Linked DNA regions of Homo sapiens. The protein of the gene in region 1 interacts with the protein of each later gene in a pairwise test. Each region holds a gene or a part of one and is shown in the gene's direction. Other genes may lie near its edges.

Region 1 (2,695 bases):
AGCGCTTCACACAGAGCTCCAACCTGCAGCAGCACCGGCGGTTGCACTTGCGGCCAGTCGCCTTTGCCCGCGCCCCCCGCCTCCCCATCACTGGTCTCTACAACAAGAGTCCCTACTACTGCGGGACTTGTGGCCGCTGGTTCCGCGCCATGGCGGGCTTGCGACTGCATCAGCGGGTCCATGCCCGAGCTCGGACTTTGACGCTACAGCCTCCCAGATCACCATCTCCTGCCCCACCCCCACCTCCAGAGCCTCAACAGACTATCATGTGCACAGAGCTGGGGGAGACCATCGCCATCATTGAGACATCCCAGCCACTGGCGCTTGAGGACACCCTGCAGCTGTGCCAGGCTGCACTGGGGGCCAGTGAAGCAGGCGGGCTCTTGCAGTTGGACACGGCCTTCGTGTGACGCAGCTGAAAAGCAACAACAAAAGGGTTTGGTTGCAACAGCCAGTGTGGGTACCTCTGGGGAGAGAGGACCTCCTCTGACAAACTGGTCTGGTACCCACCATGTGCCAGGATCCACCCTGGCCTCTTTTTACCCACTGACTCCCCAGAACAACCCTTCCAGGCTTCTCTTGTCATCTTTCTCTGCCTGAGGGGAAACTGAAGCTCTGAAATGCGATGTGATCTGTACCAGGTCACCCAGCTATGCTGCAAAGTGGGTTGGCCAAGGCCCTTTGCACTGCATCACCCTGGTGCCCAGCAACATCAGGTAACCTTCACTGAGCACCAAGCTTATGCCAGGTCTGTGCTGGCCACTCTCATATACCTCTTCAGATCCTCTGCTTGTACCCCCAGCCCTTGCCTTCCCTGGATTTTGGGCACCCAGGACTTTGCTCTGCCTGGTGGAGGGTACTTGATTTCTCTGGGCTTCCTTCATCTCAATTCTGACAGTGTGGAAGGAAATCTGTAGGTACCCAGGTCCTCAGCTCCAGACTGGGTGATGCTGGAGACCCAGGAGCAAGTCAGCACAGGCTCTGCCCACAGGAGGCATGCACAATCTGGTAGGAGAAACGCACAAGTACAGATAGCTTGCTCTCTGAGTGTGTCTCATTGATTCATTCAGCCTGTGTGTCCTAAAGCCTCCCTTCTCCCATACTGGGTGATGCTGGGGGCAGAGATGAGTCAGGCCTAAGGCTTCTCTGGGCTGTGATGGGGATGTGCAGGGACAGTGGGATCCCAGGAAACAGACCTCCATGGTGGGAGATCAGGAGTTAAGGACTTCCTAGAGAAGGTAGTCCCTGAAGGAAAAGTAGGAATCTGGCAGTGAAAGAGGAAAAGAACATTCCAGGCAGACAGCACTGCAAGAGGGTGAGCTCTTGGTGTATTTGGAGACCATCCAGTTATTCATCTGACTGCCTACCTGAGGCAAGCACCACACTTACCACTGTATGTGTACTATGATCCCAACAGGCTTGTGACATAGATTTCATATTATCCCTGTTGTATAGATTTTTAAAACTGGTGGCTGGGCGTGGTGGCTCACGCCTGTAATCCCAGCACTTTGGGAGGCCGAGGCGGGCAGATCACGAGGTCAGGAGATCGAGACCATCCTGGCTAACACGGTGAAACCCCGTCTCTACTAAAAATACAAAAAATTAGCCAGGAGTGGTGGCGGGCGCCTGTGGTGGCCAGCTACTCAGGAGGCTGAGGCAGGAGAATGGCGTGAACCCGGGAGGCGGAGCTTGCAGTGAGCCGAGATCGCGCCACTGCACTCCAGCCTGGGCGACAGAGTGAGACTCCCTCTCAAAAGAAAATAAAAATAAAAATAAACTGGCCAGGTGCGGTGGCTCACGCTTGCAATCCCAGTGCTTTGGGAGACTGAGGCAGGAGGATCACTTAAGGCCAGGAGTTCGAGACCAGCCTGGGCAACAGCAAGACCTCATCTCTACAAAACTTAAAAGTTAGCCAGGCCTGGTGGCACATGCCTGTAATCCGAGTGCTTTGGGAGGCTGAGGCAGGAGGATCACTCGAGCTCAAGAATTCAAGACCTGGGCAAGAGAGAGAGACTTTGTCTCTATTAAAAATAAAAATGATTGGCCGAGCATGGTGGTGCACACCAGTATTCCCAGCTACTCTGGAGGCTGAGGCGGAGGCAGGATTGCTTGATATGAGGGAGATTGAGGCTGCAGTGAGCTGTGTTCACACCACTGCACTCCAGTCTGGGCAACAGTGCAAGACCCTGTCACTTAAAAAAAAAAAAAAGGAAAAAAAAACTAAGGACAGAGATTTGCCCAAGGTTTCACAGCTAGGCAGAGATGTGAGATTTGAGTACGGGAGGCCCCTGCGGCCCACATTTGTAACCCATACTATTCTGAGTGATTAAGACCTGAAACTTGTGCAGGGGTAGGGGATCAGAGGAAGATTCATTCTAACTAGAGGAAAAGTAAACCAGTGTCAGAGCTATTGGGATTTGAAGGGGCTTCGAAACATCAAAGGTCTTGAGAGCAGGAAGATTCCCACCTTTTTCAGAGGTTACCTAGGATAATAGTCTTTCTCTCCATTGATTGATTGATTGATTGAGATGGAGTCTTGCTCTGTTGCCCAGGCTGGAGCACAGTGGTGCAGTCTCAGCTCACTGCAACCTCCACCTTCCAGGCTCAAGCGATTCTCCTGCCTCAGTCTCCCTAATAGCTGGGATTACAGGCCCCCACCACTGCACCCAGCTAATTTTTGTATTTTAGTAGAGAC
Region 2 (2,347 bases), on another chromosome or scaffold:
GTCACGCAGCTTGCACACACATGTCTTTGAACCAACCCAAGCAAGGCAGTCTGGCTCCAGAGTCTGTAATCTCAACATCCACATTCTATATTCCTACTAATTTGTAAGAGAATTGCTGTTTCTCTACATACCTGCCAACTGACCAGCTTCTTGAATATTTACCAACCTGAAAGGTAGAAAGTAATCCTTATTGAGGTTGAGTGTATTTTTACATTTTCTGGCTACACTGATTAACCTGTGAACTACTTGTTCAAATCGTTCGCCTGTTTCCCTTTGGGTTGCTTGCCTTTTCGTGATTTGTAGCTCCTGCCTTCATAACCATCTTGCTTGTTTCAGTGACTGACCCTGAGGCTTGTTACATTGGCACAGAGCCATGGAAACCCAAAGAAGCTGTGGAGGAGAATGGTGTTATTACTGACAAGGCAGACATATTTGCCTTTGGCCTTACTTTGTGGGAAATGATGACTTTATCGATTCCACACATTAATCTTTCAAATGATGATGATGATGAAGGTATGAATACAATTTCTAACATAAATCCCAATCTCTTCATTTCACACTAAAGATTATATAATTTTATCTTTCTAAGATATGTATTAGTACTGATGACTGATTTGGTACCACCAAGGTTTAATCTCACACAAATGAGACATAGATTGAGAATAGGGAGAAAAATTGAGGCTATCCAGAGAAGCAAAACATTATCTTAAAAACTCCCCTTTCCTGAGAAAATGATTGATTGGAAAACTATCACAGGAAGGGTAAAAGTAGGGGTCGATAACCTATAAATCCAAGACTAAAGCAAATCTACTTGATGGCAGGACAATTGAAGACATTTCCATTCTGTCTGTGGCAGAATGGAAAGCATACTGGACCATAAATTCTTGTTTCAGGAGAAGGGTGAGCTATTAAACTTTTCCATGACATAAAGTGATTTTGTTTATTGTTTCAATCTCTAACTCCTTCAAGATAAAACTTTTGATGAAAGTGATTTTGATGATGAAGCATACTATGCAGCGTTGGGAACTAGGCCACCTATTAATATGGAAGAACTGGATGAATCATACCAGAAAGTAATTGAACTCTTCTCTGTATGCACTAATGAAGACCCTAAAGATCGTCCTTCTGCTGCACACATTGTTGAAGCTCTGGAAACAGATGTCTAGTGATCATCTCAGCTGAAGTGTGGCTTGCGTAAATAACTGTTTATTCCAAAATATTTACATAGTTACTATCAGTAGTTATTAGACTCTAAAATTGGCATATTTGAGGACCATAGTTTCTTGTTAACATATGGATAACTATTTCTAATATGAAATATGCTTATATTGGCTATAAGCACTTGGAATTGTACTGGGTTTTCTGTAAAGTTTTAGAAACTAGCTACATAAGTACTTTGATACTGCTCATGCTGACTTAAAACACTAGCAGTAAAACGCTGTAAACTGTAACATTAAATTGAATGACCATTACTTTTATTAATGATCTTTCTTAAATATTCTATATTTTAATGGATCTACTGACATTAGCACTTTGTACAGTACAAAATAAAGTCTACATTTGTTTAAAACACTGAACCTTTTGCTGATGTGTTTATCAAATGATAACTGGAAGCTGAGGAGAATATGCCTCAAAAAGAGTAGCTCCTTGGATACTTCAGACTCTGGTTACAGATTGTCTTGATCTCTTGGATCTCCTCAGATCTTTGGTTTTTGCTTTAATTTATTAAATGTATTTTCCATACTGAGTTTAAAATTTATTAATTTGTACCTTAAGCATTTCCCAGCTGTGTAAAAACAATAAAACTCAAATAGGATGATAAAGAATAAAGGACACTTTGGGTACCAGAAGGTGTCTCAGCATTATTTTATACTTCATTGATTTGAGTGTTGTCATTAAACTTGAGTAAATGTGAGGTTTCTTTCCCTCTCTTGGCCTTATTTTGCTAATCTATAAAGTGTTTTGGATCAGTAGTTTCTGTAAGCCACAGTCCCCTGGGAATTTTCCAAATTACTGAATTGCCAATGTAGGTGGTATACCTACATTTGGGTGTAGACAGAATTTTAAAAATTACCGACACAGGGCGTTCTCAGAAACATTAGGAACAACTGCACTCTGAACTTTAAAAATGCCTAGAAATCACTGAAGGCCTTTTGGTATAAGATTGTACCAAGCAATAGGACACAACATTAATTTGCATATATTCCATCAAAATAATGTGACAAGTAAATTGGAAGTTGTCTTAATTTGTAGAAAAACGTATGTATAATTTTGCATCCTGATACTCAATAGGGTCTCTTATCCTCACTCTGACATGTGTCACTCTTCTTTGCCAAGCCAACAGAGC
Region 3 (3,500 bases), about 13 Mb from region 1:
GGAATTGTGATGCTTTTCCAGACATTCACATTGCATCGCAAAAACGTGAGACAAAACACTGTGGGTGAGGCTGAAGTTTAACATCCTCCCTCAGTGCCCTTTCCTCCTCTTGTCCCCAGGGATGATCACTCCAGGAGATGCGTGTTAACATATATAAGCACCTTAACGTGTGCATCTGTTTTGTGTGTGTGCTTCATGGCTAGCTGAGAAATCTGGGTGTCTTTGAATTAAGGAAATGGTGTGGCGGTGCTCATGAACCCCCCCGCCCCCCCATGCTCATGGTTTATCCTCCATCTTGAAGGGCCGGTCTCTCTTCAGGGGTTGAAGGGTCTGGTGAGAGCAGAGGTTTCTGTGGTTTTGCCAGTGAGGCTCCGTTCCTAGTGGCTACCTCAGGCAAATAGAGGGTTGAGGGAGCCTGCTGGAGGCTGGCAGAGATACCCGCCCCTACTCACGCCTTTACAGTCTCTTCAGTACTTGGCTTTGAAGGGAGTGAGGCTGAGAGATTCAAGTGGTTTGGGATTCAAGTCTGGATGGGGCAAGCTCCTCCCCTGACCTGCTGAAGGAGAGGAGGGCCTCTTTCCCCTTCAGTCTGCAGATTCTCCGAGGCCCTTCTCTTCCCCTGGGAAGGGTGCTTGCTTCTGCATTATTCACCGGCTTGGGAAGGGATGGGTTGAGTTTCCCTGCTTCCTGGGGATATCAGATCCTGCCTGGCACCTGACCCCTAGTCCTGATGGTGGGGCTGTGGGTGCCAGCTAGTTGCAGAGGTCTTTCCTGAGGGGTCGCTGGGTCCCTTCAGGAAAACATCATTGGGTCTCTTGATTCCCCAGCCTCTAGCCCTGCCCCTCTCAGGGACGACCCTGGGGTCAGGCCCCTCAGCCCTCGAGGGGGACCAGGAGCCAGCCTCCTCTGTCTTCTCTGGCTCCCCAGCTCCTCCTGAGCATCCTCAGGTATCTTACACCCCGGGGGCATTTCCAGGCCCCGTCCCCCTGGTCCCCTCATGGTCCCTGGACTCGCTTGTGGACCCAGGAGGCCTGTTAATTCCCTTCCTCCATTGAATCCCTTCCCTTTGGGGGTGGCCTCCCTGGGGCTTGGGACATAGCCACCAGCGCGCAGGGTGGGCTGGGCCCGCATCCTTACTCCGCTTATCCCGTGCCCCTCCTCTCACCCTTGCCCAGAGCGGGACAAGGAGAACCGGCATCGGAAGCGCAGCCACAGCCGCTCTCGGAGCCGGGACCGCAAACGCCGGAGCCGGAGCCGCGACCGGCGCAACCGGGACCAGCGGAGCGCCTCCCGGGACAGGCGACGACGCAGGTACTAGGGCTCAGGGATCCCCTGGGCCAGCCTGGGAGTCGGGGGGTCGGTGTTGGCCGGCCTGTGGGTGGCCTGTGTGTGTCTGTGTCTGGGTCCGGGCCCTGTGTGGCTCGTTCGTTCTTTGTGTGGATCTGGGGGAGGGATCTACTGCTTGGTCTGTCTTGGATTCCGATTTTTTCCCCCGTTTCTGGGGTTTCTTTCATTTTCTGTCTTGGTGGTTGCTGGTGGGTTGCTGGGGGCAATAGGCTCTTTATCTGGAGCCTGGGAATTGATTCTGTGTTTTCCTTCACAAGGGGTTGTTCTCTGTCTCTGACTCTGAGGGCCTGTTCCTTCTTTTCGACTCTCTGTGGCTCTCTGTGGGACTCTCTTCGAGGGGGTTGGTCTCTGCCTCCAGTTTCTTTCTTCCCTGCCTCCCAGGAGAAGGGAGCTCTTGGGACCGAGGCAGTATCCACAGCCTGGGCTGACTTTTTGGCCCAGGGGTGTCGGTTTCCACCGCCTCTTCCCTTCTAGGCTCCCCTTTCTGTTCTCTGCCTCCTTAGGTGAGGAAGGGCAGGATAGGCGGAAGTCCTCCTGCCTCCTCCCGGCTCAGTTTCTCCAGCTAGAGACTGGTCCTTCCTGGCCCCTGGCCCCTTTCTCCTTTCCTCACTTCCTCTTTCCTGGGGGTGGGAGTGTTTGGGGGGAAATGGCAGGGCCGAGGGTGGCCTGCTTGCTGCTTGTTGACCTCGGCCCTGCTCCCACCCTGGGGCTCAGTGCCCTTGGGGGGGTGTGGCATGTGGGGAAGACGAGGGTCCCCAGTCACCCCTCCCCATACCTTTCCCTCCCACCCCCCAGCAAACCTTTGACCAGAGGCGCTAAAGAGGAGCACGGTGGACTGATGTGAGCTTCTCTTCCTGCCCCTTCCTCCCTGATGTCCACTCCCTTCACCTTCCTCACGCCCGTGCACCCTGTCCCGCCCATTTCCAGCCCTGGCCCAAGCACTGGGAAGAGTCCACTTACCTTGAAACCAGCACCCCTTTCCCAGGCCCTGCCCCAGACCCTCTCCTTCCCTGGAGAGAGTGGAGCTTACATGGTTGCGGGGAGGGTGAAAGGGTGCCTGGGAGGGGGCTCGCAGGCCCACTGTTGGTCAGACTGAGGTTGCCCTGCCCCGCTCTCCCCTCCCACCTCCCCCAGTCGTTCCCCCCGCCACGAGAAGAAGAAGAAGGTCCGTAAATACTGGGACGTGCCACCCCCAGGCTTTGAGCACATCACCCCAATGCAGTACAAGGCCATGCAAGGTAGGCCCCTGGCCAGGCTGCTCCCAGAGCGGGAGGGTACAGGGGTTGGGATTCTCCGTCAGTCATTCCCCTGCGTGTGTGCTTGGAGGGGGTCAAAGACACAGGTAGAGGGTTGCACACCCCTGGGGGTTCTGGTCTCTGCGCTTTTGAAGCCTCCCTAGAGGAGGAAATGACCAGAGACACCCGTGGTTGACAGGGGAATGAGGCCTCCATCTGGACGCCATTAGGAAGTGAGGCTTCTGAGGAGCAGCAGTTACTGGGTGGGGGCCCCGAGGGTGGAAAGAGGGTTCTGGAAGGTGCTAAGACCGAGAGCCTGTAGGAGCTTTCTGCTGAGGAGGGGAACTCCCAGTGTGTGGTGAGGGGTGGTCACTGAGCATTCCCCTGATGGGGTTTTATCCGGCTTTTATTCCCTTTGAAGCTGCGGGTCAGATTCCAGCCACTGCTCTTCTCCCCACCATGACCCCTGACGGTCTGGCTGTGACCCCAACGCCGGTGCCCGTGGTCGGGAGCCAGATGACCAGACAAGCCCGGCGCCTCTACGTGGGCAACATCCCCTTTGGCATCACTGAGGTACTGCCCTCCCCTGCCCCCTACCCTCTCCCTTGTCCCTCTACCCCGTTCCTCCCCTTCCCTCCATTCCCTTTCCCCAACCTGCACGGGTCAGACTCTGCTCCTGCAAGACCCCCCGGCCCCCTCCCAGACGGACCGATGGAGTTGAGCCAGCCAGGGGCCGGGCTGGGGGTGGCCCTCCCTCCCTCCTCTTCCCCTCTCCCGTCTCCCCTCCCCCCAACCTCCTCCAGCAACCCAGGGATCAAGCACACACATAATGTACCCACGTGTTGTACCTACGTGTCGGAGAGAGACAGAGAGGGAGACTTGGACACACACACACACACACACACACACACACACACA
Region 4 (3,500 bases), about 38 Mb from region 1:
AGGCCTCCATCATCCCCTCACGGTGCCCAGATCTTGCCTTTTGTAGCACTTCAGAATTACTGTATTTCACCAACTCTCAACCCCATACCTTTTCATGCTCTAGCATATCTGAAATCACGCACCTAACGAGGAAAGAGACATCTGGGTCAGTGAAATTCGGTTCATGCCCATGTGTTGTTGGCCTGTCTACTCCTCCCCCTCATTCATTCATTTATTCATTCAACACTCATTTATTGGGCACCTGCTGTGTGCCAGGGTCTGTGCCGAGCGCCAGGAACAAAGTCCCTGGCCTCATGGAGCCCACAGTCTAATGGGAAGTGGAGAATAGTGGTAGTCAGGCAGGTGCACGGGCCCCCGAAGTCAGGCAGGAGAGAGCCCCTGGGGCAGTGGCGCAGGAGGGAGGGCTATAGGTAGCTGGGGTACGGTGACATCAGGCAAAATACTGGTGGCGCTGAGGTCTGAGGATGAAGGGTGTCGCCGGCCATGAGACTGTAGGAGCAGAGGCCTTGAGCTGGGACTGAGCTGGGGGTGTTTGCAGGATCAGACAGGAGGCGGGCGTGCTGGGCTGGGGAGCAGAGCCCGGAGTAGGAGGGGAAGAGGGGGGTGGGGCAGCATTTTTCTGTGTGGCATCTTTCCTCCTGGAGGGTGGGGTGCCCCGTAAGCACAAAGATTGCTTCTGGGAGTGCATGACAGGCAGGCCTCACCTACTCAGGGGGCTTCCCAAGCAGGCGACCCTTGGACTGAGCCCCAGGAAGATATGAATGAGAACACGAAGTTCTCAGGTAGAGGAAATTTGGACACAGGGTGGGGCAGCCTGCCTCTTGAAGGAGGGAGCTCCCCGTTGCTGGAGGCAAGCAAGCAGTGATCTTGCAGGATGCCGCAGGGACAGCCTGCCAGTGGGAGCCAGCGTCCCAAGACAGCTCACATCCCTACATGCTGCCCCGCAGGTGTAAGACGTGCGGAGAATACATCTACAAGGGGAAGAAATTCAATGCTCGGAAGGAGACGGTGCAGAACGAGGTCTACCTGGGCCTGCCCATCTTCCGCTTTTACATCAAGTGCACGCGCTGCCTGGCAGAGATCACCTTCAAGGTAGGTGAGACGGCCGGCCAGGCCGGTCCCTCTCCCCCAGCACACCTCAGATCAGGGCGGGCCCTGGGGTTCCTTAACTCCAATCCTCTCCATCCAGGGAATCTCATTTCAGTTTATCCCCAAGAAACAGACAACAGTTTGGGGGAGATGTTCATGGCAGCATTCTAAATAAAGGCAAAAAGACAGAAGCAACCTAGATAGATAATAATAAGGGATGAGAAGAACAAATTAGCATGCAGGCTGGGCATGGCTCACACCTGTACTCCCAGCACTTTGGGCGGCCAAGGCGGGCAGATCACCTGAGGTCAGAAGTTCAAGACCACCCTAGCCAACATGGCGAAATGCCATGTCTACTAAAAATACAAAAATTACTGGGCATGGTGGCGGACTATAATCCCAGTTACTCGAGAGGCTAAGGCAGGAGAATCACTTGAAGCTGGGAGGCAGAGGTTGCAGTGAGCGAAGATTGCACCGCTATACTCCAGTCTGGGTGACAGAGCAAGACTCCAACTAAAAAAAAAAAAAAAAAAAGCCAGGCACAGTGGCTCATGCCTGTAATTCCAGCAGGTTGGGAGGCCAAGGCAGGAAAGAGAGCCCCTGAGGTCAGGAGTTTGAGACCAGCCTGGCCAACATGGTGAAACCCCGTCTCTACTAAAAATACAAAAGTGAGCCAGGCGTGGTGGCTCATGCCTGTAATCTCAGGTACTTGGGAGACCAAAGCAGGAGAATCGCTTGAACCCGAGAGGGAGAGGTTGCAGTGAGCCAACATTGCGCCATTGCACTCCAGCCTGAGCAACGAAATGAAACTCTGTCTCAAAAAGAAAAAAAAAAGTAGCGTGCAATGGAATATTACACAGCCAATAAAAATTGCAATTTGACTTTTATTTGTTACCTTGAGAATTTAAGGAAAGACTGAAGATAACTTAAAATTTTCTCTTCCTATGCTTAAGTACTCTTTGAATACTTTTTTGCCATAAGCTTTTTTTCTTTGATTAAAAAAACATTTTGGGCTGGGCGCAGTGGCTCACAGCTATAATCAGCACTTTGGGAGGCCAAGGCAAGTGGATCAGTTGAGGTCAGGAGTTCGAGACCAGCCTGGACAACATGATGAAACCCCAACTCTACTAAAAAAAAATACAAAAATAGGCCGGGCGCAGTGGCTCACGCCTCTAATCCCAGTACTTTGGGAGGCTGAGGCAGGCGGATCATGAGGTCAGGAGATCGAGACCATCCTGGCTAACACAGTGAAACCCCGTCTCTACTAAAAAAAAAGCAGAAAAAAATTAGCCAGGCGTGGTGGCGGGTGCCTGTAGTCCCAGCTACTCGGGAGGCTGAGACAAGAGAATGGCGTGAACCCAGGAGGCGGAGCTTGCAGTGAGCTGAGATCGCGCCACTGCACTCCAGCCTGGGCGACAGAGCGAGACTCCGTCTCAAAAATAAATAAATAAATTAATAATAATAATAATATTTTGGCTGGGTGCAGTGGCTCACGCCTGTAATCCCAACACTTTGAGAGGTCAAGGGAGAAGGATCGCTTAAATCCAGGAATTCAAGACCAGCTTGGGCAACATAGTGAGATCCCGTCAGTACAAAAAAATATAAAAATTAGCTGGGCATGATGGCATGCGCCTATAGTCCTAGCTACTTGGGAGGCTGAGGCAGGAGAATCAATTGAGTCTGGGAGGCCAAGGCTGCAGTGAGCCATGATTTCACTGCTATACTCCAGCCTGAGTGACAGAGTGAGACCCTGTCTGCAAAAAAACAAACAAAAACTTTTTTTGAAATACCTGAAGATTTACAGAAAAGTTCCAAAGATAGTACAGATAATTCTCACCTACCCCCTCACCAACTTCCCCGAATATTAGCATCTTATATAACCAGGGTACATCTGTCACAGTAAGATACTAAGGGTGGGGCCAGGCATGGTGGCTTACTCCCAGCGCTTTGAGAAGGCAAGGCAGGAGGATTGCTGGGGACCAGAAGTTCAAGACTAGCCTGGGCAACATAGTGAGACCCTGTCCGTGTCTACACACACACACACACACACACACACACACACACACACAAATTTTAATTAAAAAAAGAAACTAAAGGTGGAATGTTACCATTAACATTGTAGGCTGTGGCTGGGTGCAGTGGCTCATGCCTGTAATCCCGGCACTTTGGAGGCCAAAGCAGGAGGATCGGTTGAGTCCAAGAGTTAGAGACCAGCCTGGGCAACATGGCGAAACCCTGTCTCTACCAAAAAGAAATTTAAAAATTAGCCAGGTGTGATGGTGCATACCTGTAGTCCCAGCTACTCGGCAGGCTAAGGTGAGAGGATTGCTTGAACCCGGGAGGCTGAGGTTGCAGTGAGCCATGATCCTGCCGCTGCACTCCGGCCTGGGCAACAGCACGAGACCCTGTCC
Region 5 (3,500 bases), on another chromosome or scaffold:
ATACTTTTAGGCACATTTCTTTTATTACGTGTGACCTTGACCCAGGCTTGACACAGCCAGTTTCCAAACTCCTAGAATCCACCTAGTATCCATAGCTTTTAAGGTCTGCTTATAGCCTGCTACTATTTCTATAAAAGAATATATGTATATGCATTTTATATATCAGTGTATGTATTACATGTACATGAGAATCTTAAGGTTTTTCTGTTCTTGATAAATAATTCTTCGAGAACGTATAAGGCAAGTTTAAAGCCTGGATTTTGTGCCATATGGAAGAATGATAGTGTAATTTAAGAACCAATAACTTGCATTGGTGGTGGCTGCTTTGTAAATAATTAGGTTTCAATGCTAAGGTTTCTTATTTCTCTGAATTTTGGAATGTGAGTCTAATATTTCATAGTATAGCAGGCAGAGGTTTTTCATACCTGGCATTTTTTTTTTTTTATTTAGAAACCTTGGCATGATTATTTTGTCTAGCAAGTTTTTTGTTCCTGTTGTTGTTACTTAGAAAATAGGTTATGTCTGCCAAAAATGGAAGGTCTCACATTTCTTATTCAGAGATCAATTTGGAGATTTTATGATGTGGAGAAAATATAGAGACAGGTAACAAGTCTAGAGCATTCTGATTAAAACAAAAAGCAACCTGCTTTTGTCAGAGCTGAAATTACCTTACGTGTCCAAAGAAATCACTATGGGTTGCCTTGAGGCGAACTTGAAGAAAGGTGGAAATTTGGAGCCCCTTTTGGAGAGAAAAGTAGATGACCTTTGGGTAGACGTCTTTTTTTTGTTTGTTGAGTAAAGACAGGGTTTAGCCAGGCTGGATTCGAGCTCCTGGCCTCAAGTGATCCGCCTGCCTCGTGTGTAAATGTTTTAAACTAGAAGTTGACTTATTGGCATGTTTTGTGGTTGTGCAGCTGTGGAGAGATTAAAACTACATTCTGGATAATTTGATCCGAAGATCAATCCCACTTTACTGTTTAAAGGCCCTGGATCTAGATATTCTCAAATGCCAATCTTCATCTCTGTTAGTTTACCCATTAAGGTAGCTGTTCAACTCTATGAACAGTAGATAGGTATATAAGAACTGTAACATTCATACAAGATGAATGAATAAAGAAATGGAGGCTCGGGTAGTCACTTTTTCCTGTTGTGTTTCGTATTTAGAATTCACCTTAATTACTTTTCTTCTGGTCATTTAACTTCTCAGTTATTCTGGTACTCTGGAATAGTCCTCATGTTCAGTCTGCTAAATTTTAACTGAAATAACTCATGTTCATTTCAGAAGTTAAGGGTTTTTCAAAACTTTAAACAGGTTTTATTTTTTAGAGGTAAGACTGGCCTTCTGTTATATTAATGCTGAAAAGATATCTTCAGGATTGTTTTTACTCTTATTTACTCAAACCATCTAGAAATTGTATGCCTTCTTTGAGTTGAAGAGAAGAACCTTTGACATACACATAAACAATATTGCACACACAGAGTAGGCAACTTTCCATTAATTTGCAAAGCTGCAAATTAAGTTGCAAAGTTGCAACTTAAAAAAAAAGTTAAGTTGCAAAGTGCTACATTCATTTTTTTCAAACTGAAATAATAAACATGAGTATTAGTTCCTGTTTTTGCTACCCTTTTTTAACCGTGATTGGTGTATAAAACAAATGGAAAGCTACTATGCTAAAATAGTGTTAATTCATTCAACAGGTAATTGTTGAGCATCCACTATGTGTCTGGCGCTATTCTAGGCACTGGATTCTACTGGTAATCAAATAAATGAAGAAGTCAAAACAGTGTAATAATGTTTGATGAAGTTGGAGCTGAGAAAGCTAAGTTTAGATGAAATGATAAGGGAAGACCTTTTGGTGGAGGTGACATTTGAGATTACACCTGAATATGCAGATAGTTAATTTGGACAAGGAACATTCCACACAAAAGTTAAAAAGGAAAAATTACTTCAAACTTGAAAGCTTAGTTTACCACTGGCAGAGGATTATCTTCATGATTGTGGAGTTTCCAAGAGTGTTAGTAGAAATCTTAAGGGATGGAGATCTAGTTCCTTTTTAACTTGGCTTTATGTTTTCATTGTTTCTCTGTTTTGAACCAGTGTTGTACTTTGATTATAAAGTAAAAGAATAGTCTACCTACACGTAATTTTTAGTTATCCCAGTGTTCATTTTAACTTATTTCACTTTCTAACCTCTGACTAGACATGTTATGAAGCCTAATTTTTTTTTCTCCCATCTGTTATGTCCTTAGTGAGGAATAATAGTTAAAACTGCCTCTCAAGATAAAACATAAAAATGGAGACCAGAATACCTTAATGTTTATTAAAGTATGTTTTAAATGTTTAATGGAATGATAATAAATACTGTAGAATCAAGTAGATGTGGGCAGTGCTTCAGTTATTAATGTTAGATAGGTTATTTATTGCAGAACTTCTCAGAAACTTTGATTTTTGAGTAATGTGCAGTGTAAATACCAAAATTTTGCAGCGATTACCTAACCTATTTGACTTATAAGACCCCCTTTTTAAAGAGCATTTCGTAAAACTGGAGTTTACAGAAAACATACTTGGAAATACTGCATGCTTGAAAATTTGATTGTATAAAACTCTGGATCTCAACCTTTTATTCAAAATCATTTTACTCTTTTCAGTTGCTCTTATGAAATAGTGATGTTTGACAGTGATTACTGTGAGTCTCTAACTTGTGTAGTCAGGAAAAAAGAAGTCAGTCATCAGATAAATTCATAACAGATCTCAGCATTTACTTAGATTATTTGGAGCTTAACTGTTAAGTATTTACCTTACCTAGTTTATCATAATCAGCATACTATCTGTAATTATTACTAAAGTATTAGTTTATTTTGATTATTTTTCCTCCTGTCTGGATGACATCCTCAGTTTTTTTCTTATATTGATACAGTCTAATTTATAGCTTATGCCTCTGTGCTCCATGTTTTAAAATTAGAATTAATTTGTTATTAACAGTTTTCATAGATTTCAACAGTTTTATTTTTCATGTATTGAAATATCTTTGATTATCGTATCCTCTCAAATCAGTCTCTTGTATCCCATTCATCTTGGCCTCTTGTCAACTTGCAACCTCAATATAACATTGACTGTTTTTACTTCCTTTACAGATGTGTCTGTTTTATAGTATACTTTTTTGTTGGTTTTTCTTTCTTTCTAGTATATTTAAAGAATATTTTTATTATTTCTAAAAATACAGAAGACACATTTTTATGCTTTTTTTCCCATTCCAGTGAGAAAAATCTAACTTGTAATTCTTACCATTTGAGTTTGTGTACAAAAGGAAGAATCGAGAAGATACTGAGAACATTGTCTTCACAATTCTTTCTTGAAAGATTTTGAATCTCCTTGCTAATGACCTAGTTTTCCCAGTCAAAATAAAATCTTTTAGGTTTTGAATAGAAAAAGAGTTCTGGAAGGAAAATCTGTAGGTGAGAAAGGGCGTGTATAAGCCCAGTCTTAACACTCAGATAGG
Region 6 (3,149 bases), on another chromosome or scaffold:
GAGGGGAAGTTTGAGTGCAAAGGGAACATGCCTTAGTAATATCTCTGAGATGGGCAACCATGGTGGAAGAATGTCTAGAAGTTTTTAAAAGCTGGAGTAGGGGCAGTAACCGGCATGGAAATGGTTGTGCACATATGAAAGTACAGAAGGTTTTTTAAACTTGGGCAAGACACTTTATCAGTGAGATCGAACTATTTTTTCCTGAATGGCACCAGCCTGGGCAAGTGGGTTTTTTTCCTGCTGGGTATATACAGGGTGTATGCTGGGAAAAAAAATGAGCAATAACGATGGGGTTTTAAGGGCTGCCTGCCAGGCTGCCGAATTTGTTGAAAGGTTTTTCTCGGTTTTGGCATCTGTAGCCTTTCGGTGTCCCTTGCAATGGATAATGGTGGCCTTTGGTGGTGGTTTATCCACCCCCAACAGCTTATGTGTAAGTTTGCCATTTCTTATGGGGGTTCCTTTTGTAGTTAGGAAACCCTGTTCCTGCCAGATGAAGGCATGAGACTGTAGGACATGGTATGCATATTTGGAATGGGTGTAAATGTTGACCCTCTTTCCCTTTGCTAGGGTGAGGGCCCTGGTTAGGGCAACTAGCTTTGCCTGTTGAGAGGTAGCATGGGGTGTGAGAGCATTCGATTCTAGGAGTTTATCTTCAGCACTGATGGAATAGCCAGCTGCTGGACATGGCTGCCTAAAAGAGGTTCCATTAACTAACCGTGTATGTGTTCCCTGCAAAGGGGCATCTGAAATGTGTTGGAAGGGGGAGGAGAGGGAGTCTAAGAGGTCCAGACAGGAGTGAGAGAGCTTAGAGTCGGAAGTGTTTACAGGGAGAAGGGTGGCTGGGTAGAGAATTTTATGTCTCTGGAAGGTGATTAGAGGGTTACCTATGAATAAGGCATGCACCTGCTGTAAGCAGGATGGTGGGAGGGATAGAAGGGATTGGTGGTTTATGAGGTCCTGTAGATAATGGGAAGATGCAATAGTAATGTGTTGGTAGAGAGGGAGTTTCCGTGCATCTAAGGCCAGCAATGTGGCCATACCCAAGATTTTTAGTCAGAGTGACCAGCCTCGGATGACAGAGTCCAGTTGTTTTGAGAGGCGTGCAATGGCTTCTGGGGCGTTGCCATATGTTTGGCAGAGTAGTCCAAGGGCAAGGCGCTGGTCAGAATGTACATAGAAAGTAACAGGCTTGGTGAGGTTTGGCAGTCCCAGTGCCAGGGCCATTAAAAGGGCATTTTTAAGTTTTTAAGTTGGAGTTGATGGGGCAAGCTGGGTTCAGGGGTTTTAGGATGGGCCCATGTGAGGCTACGTATAGTGGCTTGGCCAGCAAGTCAAAGTTAGGAATTCACAGCCAGAAGTATCCCACAAGGCCCAAGAAGGAGGGGAGGTCCTTTTTTTTTATGTGGGGAAGGGGCATGTCCCAAATTGGCTCCTTTCATTGGGTTGGGATGGCTCGAGAATTAGGGGTTAGAACAAACCCAAGGTAAGTAACTTTGATTTGGGTACCTGAGATTTTGTGGGTTAGGCCCAATATACTTGATTATGAAGGAAGTTTAAAACCTGAGTGGTGTGTTGAATGGACAGGTTAAGAAAGGGGCTACAGAGAAGGAGGTCATTGACATACTGGAGGAGGGTACTAGGAGCAAGGGGAAGTTCAGCTAGGTCCTTGATGAGGGCCTGTCTGAACAGGTGGGGCCTATCCCGGAACCCCTCTAAGAGTACAGTCTAGGTGTAAGTCCATGTGTAAGTCCTGTAAGAGTACAGGACATGTGAGTATTAGGATTTGACCAAGTCAAAGCAAAAAGACTTTGGTAAGCCAGATTTAAGGGAATAGTGAAATAGTTGTCTTTTAGTTCAATACAAAGGAGTGTGTGGTAGATGGGGCAATACGGTAGAGTAGAGTATATTGGTTGAGGACCACTAGATGGATTGGTACCACGGCCTGGTTAACGACTTGGAGATCCTAGACAAAGGGGTAAGTCCCGTCTGTCTTTTGGAAAGCCAGAATAGGGGTGTTGTGGGGAGAGTTAACAGGCTTGAGAATATGAGCTTGTAAAAGTTTACAGATAATAGGTTTGAGACCCCCTAAGCAAGGCTGGATTAAGGGGATATTGAGACTGATGAAGGAAAATGGAGGGGTTTTGAAGGGTTATTTTAACTGGGATGTGATGTGTGGCTATTGTGGGTTTAGAAACATTCCAAGCTTTAGAATTAACAGAAGGTAACAGGGTGGATAATGAGGATGAGTGGGGGGAGAGGGAAGCGTTTGGGTGTCAGAGTAAAATAAAAGGGGTAGAATTGTAGGAGCCACATTGCATGGAGTTCTGGAATTTACTTAATATGTCCCATCCCAAGATAGGGGTAGGGGACTGAGGGATAACCAGGAAAGAGTGGGTGAAGGGGGCTGCTGAATAGGTTGTATAATAAAGGACCAGTCTGTGCCTAGAGGGGATTTTATTGATTCTCACAATAGAGATCGAAGAACAGAAAAAGGGTCTAGAATATTCTGGTCAAACTGAGTAACTAGTTGTCCTATTGAGTATCCAATAGGAAAGACATGGGCTTACTAGAGACTGACAGAATTACCCTGGGTTCCGAGGTGGTGATGGCAGTAGGGGCGGTGGACTCCAGGCCCCACCTGTCTTCAGGTACAGGTGGTGAAGCAGGATGAAGAGTTTCAGTGAGCACAGTCTGACTTCCAGTGTTGCTTGATACCACAGATGGGGCAAGATTTCCAGAGTGTCCTGGGATTAGGCTAGGCTTTTGCCCAGTGTCCCTGTTAGACGAACTTGTAACAGGCTCCTGGAGTTGACTGTTGCCAAGTTGAGGAATTCTGTAGGCCTTGGGAACCCTGTTGAGTGGCAGCTACCAGCATTTGGTATTTAGCCTGGTCCTTCTTTAGGTTTGGATTTTTTAGTTCTTCCTCTCTAATCTTATAGATCTTGAAGGCCACTTTGATTAAGTCTCTTTGGAAGGTTTGAGGGCCACCCTCCAGTTTTTTAAGTTTTTTTCAAATGTCTGGGTCTGACTGGGAGATAAAGTATAAATGGAGGTAGTTTTTGCCCTTATTGGTATTAGGGCTTAAGGTGGCATATTTAGTTGTGACTTTTGAAAGGCAGGAGAGGAAACGAGCAGGGACAGCTTTATTT
Region 7 (3,500 bases), on another chromosome or scaffold:
TTGGCAGTTTTCAAATGACTGACCAAATTGCCTGTGACTTAGCACGTTGTATAATTATAAAGTTCTTTCCAAGGCATGCTGAACTCACAATTTCTCTAAGAATTAGTTTCTTTTCTTTTCTTTTCTTTTCTTTCTTTTTTTTTTTTTTTTGAGATGGAGTTTCGCTGTTGTTGCCCAGGCTGGAGTGCAATGGCTGGATCTTAGCTGAGTGCAATGGCTGGATCTTAGCTCACTGCAACCTCTGCCTCCCGGGTTCAAGTGATTCTCCTGCCTCAGCCTTCCGAGCAGCTGGGATTACAGGCATACGCCACCATCGCCGGCTAATTTTGTAATTTTAGTAGAGACAGGGTTTCTCCATGTTGGTCAGCCTGGTCTTGAACTCCCGACCTCAGGTGATCCGCCTGCCTCAGCCTCCCAAAGTGCTGGGATTACAGGCGTGAGCCACCGCATCCAGCCAAGAATTAGTTTCTTAGGCAGTGGGCTCCCAGGACCACAAGAAGGGCAGGTTTGAGCTATTGCCTGGCACAGAGAAGCAACACTCTGCCCGTCTAACACCTGGGGTGTGCAAGGCAGCAGGAGGTAAAAATGCTCCCACCCTGGTGTTCCTTCCAGAATCATCTGGCAGTAGCGGTTAATCATATAAGCTCTGGCTTTGTCACTTCTTAGCTGTGGACCTTGAGCAAGTGGCTCACCCCTCTGAGCCTCGGTTTCCTTATCTGTAAGATGATAATGATACCTACTTGATAGCATCGTGAGGATAAATGAGTGGAGGGTAGAACATGGTATGTGCCCAATAACCATAGATAGTATTCAGGTTAATAGGGAGACACAAACATTATTAACTCTGCTGCAGGACAGTGAATGTGAAACCAGAATTCCAAACAAAGACGTGACCGATTTGAGTGGGGAAAGTGTCCTGATGTGGATTTGAAGGCTGGGGAGAAGGGAGGCGGGTGGGCCTGAGGGCAGTGTGGGCTGAGTCCCGCAGCTGGAGCATAGAAAGGATGAAGCTCTGGTGGCTGAAGATAGGAAACAGGGCTTGCTGGGGTCAGGGAGAGAGTTGGCGGTAAAGAGCTGGAAATGTAACCAGGACAGGGTGAGATGGTGAAGGGGCCAAGCCAAGAAATATGGGTGCTCCTGCTGGGCAGAGGAGAAGCTCTGGATGATGTAAGAAGGAAAACCTCAATCGGGTTCCTCTTTTTTTTTTTTTTTTTTGAGACAGAGTCTCTCTCTGTCGCCTGGAGCTGGAGTACAGTTGCGCAATCTCAGCTCACTGCAAACTCTGCCTCCCAGGTTCAAGTGATTCTCCTGCCTCAGCCTCCCAAGTAGCTGGGATTACAGGCACCTACCACAAAGCCTGGCTGATTTTTGTATTTTTAATAGAGACGAAGTTTCGCCATGTTGTCCAGGCTGGTCTTGAACTCCTGACCTCAGGTGATCTGCCCACCTTGGCCTCCCAAAGTGCTGGGATTACAGGTGTGAGCCACCGCGCCCTGCCATTTGGGTCCCTCTTAACGGCTGTGTTCATGGATCATTATCTCTTCTGAGCCTCAGTTCCTTGATCTGTAAAGTGGAGGACTCAAAGAATCAGCCTCCTAGAAGAGTTGCATAGATTAAATGAGATAGTGGGTGTAAAGTGTTTAGCTTTCTGTGCATGTGTAAACTGCCCAAGAGGAAGTTAGCTGACAGTGACATACAGCAAGTTTTAATGCCCAACATTTTGTTGGCTGTAAGGACATGGGATTCACTAACTTGATCGTGTTGATGGGTGGATCTGGAAAAGGAGTCCGAGGTGCAGATTAGGAAATGTGGCTGGCCCTTCCCAGCCTACCTGCCTTTTGACGGTGTGCCTCAGGGCAGATTGTGAAATTGTCTCTTTACTACTGAGAATTCTGTAATTTGCCAAACAAATAAGGGTGAGAAGATGATGTACATTCCAGAGAGTGTGCATGGCAGGTCCCTTTTGTGCTGGATCCATCTGCAGGTCTTCAGCTGCGGGGTAGAGAAACCCAGGAAATACTAATCACCATTGTCCTTTGGAGGCTTATTAGAAAGTAAGTAACTCTGAAGTTGGCTGATAGTATTCATACGTGATTCTCTGGCTGGTAGGACCCAGGTCCAAGTATGGAGTACCAAGTGAATTTGTCCTCTCACCCTTTCCTATTCTGTTCTTTCTTTTTGTCCTCTCCCATGGGTTCTTCAAAATAAATTAAGTTTAGATTCTTTCAAAAGTATGCTTGGCCTTTTACCCGGCTCTCTATCGAGTCTTGTAGTGGTGCAGATGTGTGTCTACGGAGTAGTCCCCATACCCCCATCACTTTGTATTATTTACAATCTCAAAGGCATAGTCATACGTATCTGCCACCCAGCCCCAACAACCATTAACCCATGGCCAGTCCTGCCCAGCCACACTCCCACCCCTTGCCCCATGCATGATTCTGAAGCAAATCTAGGACATCATACCATTTCAACCATAAATAGTTCAGAATGTGCGTTTAGTGGATAAAGACCAAAATTCATGATCACACCCACATTACCAATTGTGTTCACATTACTAATTGTCTCATAAATTAATACTTTTCCCCTCCAGTTTGCTTAATCAGGTCCACATAATGTCCACACATTGTAATTGATTGGCATGTCTTTTGAGCCTCTTTTAATTTCATACATTTTCCCTCCATCAAGTTAATTGTTGAAGAAATGGGTGATTTGTTTTGTAGAGTCCCCAACAGTCTGGATTTTGCTGAGCGCATCACCATGTGCCTAATGTTTCTCAGTCCCCTAGGTTTTCTCTAAACGGATAGTTGGATCTGCAGCTGCAGCATCCAGTATCACATGTGACTATCACAGCCATAGTCAATTAAGAATTAACAATTAGACCAGGCGCCATAGCTCATGCCTGTAATCCCAGCACTTTGGGAGGCCGAGGCGGGCGGATCACCTGAGGTCAGGAGTTCAAGACCAGCCTGGCCAACATGTTGAAACCCCGACTCTATTAAAAAAAAATACAAAAAAAATTAGTAGGGCTTGGTGGCATGCACCTGTAATTCAGGCTACTCAGGATGCTGAGGCAGGAGAATCGCTTGAACCCAGGAGGTGGAGATTGCAGTGAGCCAAGATTGCACCACTGCACTCCAGCCTGGACAACAGAGCGAGACCCTGTCTCAAAATAACAGTTAAGTTCTTCAGTCCTACTAGCGACATTTCAAATGCTAGTAGCCATGTGTGACCAGAGGCTAATGTACTGGACAGTACAGAATATAATTTTTCTGTCACCACAAAAAGTTCTATTGGATAATGCAACTCTCCCTGCTTGGTCAGCTCTATTTTATTTCAGCTAGAATATGTCACACTGTGGGGCATCTGTCTTCATCAGAGGCACTGAATATTTGGTTATCTCTCTTTTTCTGATGTTAGCAGCTGTTGATGCTCAGGACCTAAATATTTTGGCTTATTAGGTGTTCTAAAACAGCAATAATCTAATTCTGTCCTCTGTTTAT

The links.
Region 2: the proteins of ZNF526 (region 1) and PBK interact in binary tests that used the Homo sapiens proteins (3 or more experiments, as listed by UniProt).
Region 3: the proteins of ZNF526 (region 1) and U2AF2 interact in binary tests that used the Homo sapiens proteins (3 or more experiments, as listed by UniProt).
Region 4: the proteins of ZNF526 (region 1) and YJU2 interact in binary tests that used the Homo sapiens proteins (3 or more experiments, as listed by UniProt).
Region 5: the proteins of ZNF526 (region 1) and ZFP91 interact in binary tests that used the Homo sapiens proteins (3 or more experiments, as listed by UniProt).
Region 6: the proteins of ZNF526 (region 1) and SPANXN2 interact in binary tests that used the Homo sapiens proteins (3 or more experiments, as listed by UniProt).
Region 7: the proteins of ZNF526 (region 1) and OVOL2 interact in binary tests that used the Homo sapiens proteins (3 or more experiments, as listed by UniProt).

Annotation. Positions count from the first base shown.
Region 1 is NC_000019.10:42,226,007-42,228,701, forward strand, and holds the end of ZNF526 (zinc finger protein 526), read left to right. Parts: coding exon 1-410; 3' UTR 411-2,195; downstream 2,196-2,695. UniProt on the Homo sapiens protein: May be involved in transcriptional regulation.
Region 2 is NC_000008.11:27,809,124-27,811,470, reverse strand, and holds the end of PBK (lymphokine-activated killer T-cell-originated protein kinase), read left to right. Parts: exon of another isoform or gene 1-303; coding exon of another isoform or gene 304-336; coding exon 337-513; exon of another isoform or gene 514-969; coding exon 970-1,166; 3' UTR 1,167-1,847; downstream 1,848-2,347. UniProt on the Homo sapiens protein: Phosphorylates MAP kinase p38. Seems to be active only in mitosis. May also play a role in the activation of lymphoid cells.
Region 3 is NC_000019.10:55,658,035-55,661,534, forward strand, and holds part of U2AF2 (splicing factor U2AF 65 kDa subunit), read left to right. Parts: intron 1-827; exon of another isoform or gene 828-947; intron 948-1,175; coding exon 1,176-1,311; intron 1,312-2,142; coding exon 2,143-2,187; intron 2,188-2,481; coding exon 2,482-2,585; intron 2,586-3,003; coding exon 3,004-3,155; intron 3,156-3,500. UniProt on the Homo sapiens protein: Plays a role in pre-mRNA splicing and 3'-end processing. By recruiting PRPF19 and the PRP19C/Prp19 complex/NTC/Nineteen complex to the RNA polymerase II C-terminal domain (CTD), and thereby pre-mRNA, may couple transcription to splicing.
Region 4 is NC_000019.10:4,250,080-4,253,579, forward strand, and holds part of YJU2 (splicing factor YJU2), read left to right. Parts: intron 1-947; coding exon 948-1,092; intron 1,093-3,500.
Region 5 is NC_000011.10:58,585,563-58,589,062, forward strand, and holds part of ZFP91 (E3 ubiquitin-protein ligase ZFP91), read left to right. Parts: intron 1-3,500. UniProt on the Homo sapiens protein: Atypical E3 ubiquitin-protein ligase that mediates 'Lys-63'-linked ubiquitination of MAP3K14/NIK, leading to stabilize and activate MAP3K14/NIK. It thereby acts as an activator of the non-canonical NF-kappa-B2/NFKB2 pathway.
Region 6 is NC_000023.11:143,714,604-143,717,752, reverse strand, and holds part of SPANXN2 (sperm protein associated with the nucleus on the X chromosome N2), read left to right. Parts: intron 1-3,149.
Region 7 is NC_000020.11:18,051,417-18,054,916, reverse strand, and holds part of OVOL2 (transcription factor Ovo-like 2), read left to right. Parts: intron 1-3,500. UniProt on the Homo sapiens protein: Zinc-finger transcription repressor factor. Plays a critical role in maintaining the identity of epithelial lineages by suppressing epithelial-to mesenchymal transition (EMT) mainly through the repression of ZEB1, an EMT inducer.